Regions from separate parts of the Homo sapiens genome. Here region 1 is linked to region 2. The links come from fine-mapping of genetic effects on gene expression. A gene starts in region 2. The other region holds a variant in brackets. All regions are shown on one strand. Distances are between the middles of the regions. Region 1 has its middle 7.0 kb from the start of GYS2. Region 2 holds the start of LDHB (lactate dehydrogenase B).

Evidence for each region. PIP is the estimated chance that this variant, and not a neighbour inherited with it, causes the effect.
Region 1: its variant is the best candidate, but not a certain one, in a credible set for the expression of LDHB in whole blood (TOPMed, PIP 0.52).

Annotation. Positions count from the first base shown.
Region 1 is chr12:21,610,404-21,613,318 of GRCh38, forward strand. No RefSeq gene overlaps it. Among named protein-coding and RNA genes, the nearest start is that of GYS2, 7.0 kb to the left of the region's middle. The variant A/G (reference allele first, on the strand shown) is at 1,784.
Region 2 is chr12:21,656,439-21,659,353 of GRCh38, forward strand. LDHB (lactate dehydrogenase B) reads right to left here and starts at 1,404. Exons shown (of 8, transcript NM_002300.8): 1 at 1,313-1,404. RefSeq lists enhancers at 956-1,045, 1,076-1,325, 1,303-1,831, 1,706-1,885.

The DNA of each region.
Region 1 (2,915 bases), 46 kb before region 2:
AAACCTTTGGATTTCTCTTCAAAAATCAGATCTGGCCACTCTGGATTCTATTTGCATGGCTTCATGAAATAATCAGCTGGAGCTGGGTAAATCTCTCCTGAAATCATCACAGTCATCTCAGTCTCCATGGGCCTACATTAACTGTCAGGTTTCTAGAAACACTTAAGCTCCTGAGTTAATTTTTTTTTCCACGTGCATTTGGAGTTGCTGATCAGGAAGCAGCCAAAGGCAAAGCAAGAAATTATCCTTAAATTAAACTTACAATCTAAGCTGACAATGCCCATCCATCACACTGAAGATCGTGAGAGAGATTTTTGACCTTGACTGTTGAGATTACCTTAGTATAGACTGAATTTTACCCGTATACTCAGAACTTGTTTTTGGAATAGAGCTTTTGGTTTGTGATCCCTCTTCTCTAATTTTATTTTAAACTCTTTTGCTACACAAGATGAAGGGATTAGGAAAGGTAGCTATCGCTTCTCGGCCTTTTGGCTAAAATCAAATGTAGGAAAGGTAGCTATAGCCCCTATGGATAAAGAAGTAAACAAATAAGATTTTGGGTAAGAGAGAAAGCAGAGGGATAATATCTCTCTGGGAAGAGATCAAGTCATCCAGTGACGTTTAATCAAATGTGTTGCTTTCGTCCTTATCTCGTTCTGTGACATCCATGTACGGTCCTCTATTCTCCCAAGGAATTTTTAATAAAATCAATATAAGAAATATTTTTAAATAAAAGTTTACAAAAACAGAGCCTGGAGAGAAAATGTGCAATGATAAGAGCTTACGTGCCAAGAGTGGAAGCCAAGGCTCGATGACACTTTGAGTTTACCAGGAAAGAGGGAGCAGAGTAAAATTGTTAAAAACTAGGGCTTTGGGCCGGGCGCGGTGGCTCACGCCTGTAATCCCAGCACTTTGGGAGGCCGAGGCGGGTGGATCATGAGGTCAGGAGATCGAGACCATCCTGGCTAAGAAGGTGAAACCCCGTCTCTACTAAAAATACAAAAAAATTAGCCGGGCGCGGTGGCGGGCGCCTGTAGTCTCAGCTACTCGGGAGGCTGAGGCAGGAGAATGGCGTGAACCCGGGAAGCGGAGCTTGCAGTGAGCCGAGATTGCGCCACTGCAGTCCGCAGTCCGGCCTGGGCGACAGAGCGAGACTCCGTCTCAAAAAAAAAAAAAAAAAAAACTAGGGCTTTGGAGTCAAGCCAGTCTCATTTAGAAGTGGACTACTTAGTAGACTGTGAAATGGGGGTGATGATATTCACTTCACGAGGTTGTTGTGGGGATTAAATGAGCATGTATGAATGCTCTTTGCACAGTGTCTGCCAAAGCCTGCATCGGCTCAGAGATCAGGGATTCCAAGCCAGATGCATGGAGTCAACCTGATGGCCAGCCAGCTCAAGCTGCTCATCTGCCTCCTGCAGGAGACCATCAGTTGGCTGCCATCTAGGCTCTCTTTTCTCCACGCTCTGCTCAGGTGAGAGATGCTGATATGAAGGCTAGGAATACTGAACAACAGGCTTACTTTTCTGACATTCTCCACCAAATTTAAGATATGAAATATTGTCAAATATTATTTACATGGTGATTTTGTATGAAGCAGAAGCATATATGCTATGCAGAGGCTTATAAAATATACAGTGGTATATACATATGAGTAAATGCCAAGTATTACAAAGATAAACAAGTCAAGTAATATAAGTGGCAATGTTAAACTTTTTTTTCCAAAATGGTGTCATGAAAATAGTTGACAAAGCCGGGCGCAGTGGCTCACGCTTGTAATCCC[A/G]ACACTTTGGGAGGCCAAGGCAGGTGGACCACTTGAGGCCAGGAGTTCGAGACCACCCTGACCAAAATGGAGAAACCCCATCTCTACTAAAAATACAAAATTAGCCAAGTATGGTGGTGCATGCCTGTAATCCCAGCTACTCGAGAGACTGAGGCGGGAGAATGGCTTGAACTCAGGAGGCGGAGGTTGCAGTGAGCCAAGATCACGCCATTGCACTCTAGCCTGGGCAACAAGAGTGAAACCCTGTCTCAAAAAAGAAAGAGAGAGAGAGAGAGAAAGAAAGAGAGAGAAAGAAAGAAAGAAAAAGAGAAAGAAAGAAAGAAAGAGAAAGAAAGAGTCGATGAAAATTTTTTTTAATATAAAGAGGAAAATTCGAATGTTAGTACAGGTGTGGCACTAAATTAGTTTCTGTCAGGTGGAATGCCTTTTGGTAGTTACCTTTTTTACCTTCTGTGTTAATGCTCAATGTAGTTAGGCAAACCTGAGAATCAGTCCTACCCCACCTTGATGAAACCCACAACACATGAGATCCCAAGTAACTCCTTTACCATCAAAACAAGTCAAATATCTCCTTGAGAACACATTTTTTTTTAAATTTAGCTGTTTCTGTCAACCTAATCTCTATTTGCATATGGAGAAGGCATAAAAGCACATTCTCACTAAACGCAAATTCTGGATGTGGTAGTGTCAGACCAAGAGGAGAAGTCCTAACAGTCATAACATTACCCAGCCCTATTATTATCACGATTTTGAGGGAAAATTAGATATTAAGATTTAATGCTAAGTTATACTCACATTTAATGTTTTTATAAGATTATATCTTCCACAAGATCAGTACTGGGTTCTCAGTCACTATACTTTATGTGATTGGCTGTTCCATATGCACTTTGACTAGAAAACAAATGGTTCCTGTAACACTTAAATAGTTTCCAAGGAATATTGTGGAATCACTTTCCTGATAAGAGATAATAAAACCCTTTGATGTTGATTTAGGGTGGAAAGTTGATAAAAAGTAGAGGGATATTAGAAACTGTCAAGAGATTTTTTTTCTAAGTTTATATGCTAGCCCACAGATGCCAAATATGTTCTATTTGTTTTAAGAAGTCTTTCTAACACAGTATGAGGAAAACAG
Region 2 (2,915 bases):
CTTTTTGAAGGACGACACACATGAATAGTTGTTCTGCACTTAAGTTTATTGTTGTTAGATGGTCTGTTTACGACCGTTTTGGTATACAGGGGGCCCAGGAAGCAGTGGAAAATGAAAATGAAGAAACAGTGGCTATATAAATACAGATTCGTTGTTCTGATAGACCTTTTAATTTAGAAAACTTCAGGAAGTACAATTTAAAGGCTCGAACCAGATTTTCTTTCAGATATTTCTGGAGAAAGTGCTTTTCTTCAATTTTTCCTTAAAAAGAGTTTTAAGAAATGAGAAGAAAATGGTCTGCATGATATACAGGCCTGTGCCAACATCAGAGTGCAGGCTGTAAGGAACAAGAACGACAAACGGTAAAAATCTCTGAGTCTTGGTCCCTTATGTCTCCTCACTGCTGTGGATATAAATCATTAGAAATAAAGGAGCGCCTTAATTTCAGGAACAAAGATCTTCTTTGCAGAATCTTTCTCACCGTAATCTTTTAAAAATTCAGGTTTTGCTTTTGAATTCCTCCCCTCCCCCCATTCCCCAGGCCCTTACTGCAGCTTGTACTGCTCGCGGTGCGCACAAACCATCTTTTCCTCAGGGCACCGGCAGCAAAGAACAGCAGATCACGAGGGCATGCAGAAGCTAGAGATCTCCCCGAGTAAGGTCTGTGGGGACAAGTCTAGGACTTCCTTACTCGGAGCACCCAAGGCTGGTAAAGTAAACGAAGCCCCTAAGCATCCAGAAAAGAGGCCCTGCAGGAAAGAACTGGCGCATGGCTCCTGGAAAGACCGTCAGAGCCGGGTAAAAATAAGTGCAGCGCCAAACGTGCTGGTCATCTAGGTGCCTTTCTCCTCATCCCAGCGAGTGCAAGGGCATTTCTCTATTACCGTGGCAATATATTCAAATATTCGAGGTAAAGATCGTCCAGCCTTCATAGGCCACCTGGTTCCGTCCCCCTCCCCCAGCTACTCGGGCACGTGTCCCGACTCCCGCCAGCAGGCCGTGGGGGTGATGTGGCCGCCATGAACCCACCAAGGACAAGTAGGGCCTGGTTTTAGCTGCAAATGCAACAAGTCTCTCCGCTGAGCCGCAGCTGCTACCCTCTGCCTTCTGCTCCTCCGCCAGGGCACGGCCCCCCCTGCGCCCCAAACTGAGCGGCAAAGTCAGGGCCCGCGGCCGGATGCTCAGAGCTAAAGGCCGCGGAGGACAGATGTGCTTCTTCCTCCTTCCCGCGTCTCCCCATACAAGTACTACCCCGCACGTCCCATCAGGCTTGCCTGTGGGCCAGGATTCAGGGTCCTGAGCCGAAACCTACCAGGAGAGAGAAGGCTCTGGAGACCTCTGTAACAGTCGTGCGGAGAAGACAAAGTCAGCTGCGTGCGTCTCCTCCGGCGCCGGCTCTGCAAGGAGGGAGGAGGGGGCGGGGCCCCACAACCACCGCAGCCTCTTAGGTTTCTCCATTGTGATTGGAAATCCGAGTACCGCCTACCCCTCCCCTCGGCTCGCTCAATCCCCTTCAAGGACAAGGGCTCAAGTATGCACACTCCCTCCCCCACCCTCCAGATGAGGAGGTCTCCTTCCAGAGGCTTCCGCTCTCAGCTGGTCTCACATCTCGCAGGCTCTTCAATGCGGAGGCCAAGTTATTTATAAAACTTGCCCATCCCCGACTCTTCTGGACTTTAACGCTCTTGTTCTATTAGATTTAGTACAAATAGAAATAAATTTCTTTCCTTCTTTTTTTTATTTTGAGACGGAGTCTCACTCTGTCGCCCAGGCTGGAGTGCAGTGGCGCGATCTCGGCTCACTGCAAGCTCCGCCTCCCGGGCTCACGACATTCTCCTGCCTCAGCCTCCCGAGTAGCTGGGACTACAGGCGCCCGCCACCTCGCCCGGCTAATTTTTTGTATTTTTAGTAGAGAGGGGGGTTTCACCGTGTTAGCCAGGATGGTCTCGATCTCCTGACCTCGTGATCCGCCCGCCTCGGCCTCCCAAAGTGCTGGGATTACAGGCCTGAGCCACCGCGCCCGGCCAGAAATAAATTTCTATGTTGCATTTCAGTTAAACTTTAAAGGACTTAAAAAAATACATCTGAATTTAGATCATCTCCGTTTTAAAGTTCATTTGATGAAAATGACTATTTTTTTCAACCTGTTTCAACAAACACGCAATGATTGCTTACTCGTTGCCTGACAAGACCAATGAGGCTTTGTCCCTGCCATCTGAAGTTCCCCTACAATTCCACCTGGTCTCAAGGTCAGGCTTTGCCCTCTAGGGGAAATGTGGGACCACTAAGTGAGATGCACTTTCTTTTTTAGTCCCTAATCGACTCCAAAGCTGGATGTTGTCATTCATTCTGTCTTCAACACTCAGCCAGTGCTTGGTACCTAAATATAGCATTGATGAATAAATGAATGAATGATAAATTGGAGGAATTCTGAAGAGTCTGGCTTCAGTTCTGTTTTCTTATAATTAAAATGCTTTCAAATATAGCCATCTCACAAACTTCCTGTATGTGAAGTGTTTTTTTTTGTAAATGCATATTTCTTGTATATGACCACTAATTCTATAATTATTGCTTCAGTTTATTCTCAGTGCCAAGCATTGGTAAAAAACATAAATATAAGATTATGCCCTTTGAGGTGTTCCTAGTCCATTGGAGACAGACAAGTAGGCAACCTATTTCAATTACAATAAGTGGCAATAGAAATTTGGTTAAAGTACAATAAAAATTCAGAGTAAAGAATCACTAAGAGAAGGGTTTGTTGAGAAGAATTCATAAGCCTCAAACTCTCCTAGCATAAATCATTCAGCTAGTGGGGACTTTGACTGAAGATACAGTCCAATTACAAATTAAAATGTGATGGTGAGGAAAAGAGCTTGGAGGATAATCTCAAAAGTATTACATTAACCCTAAATCCA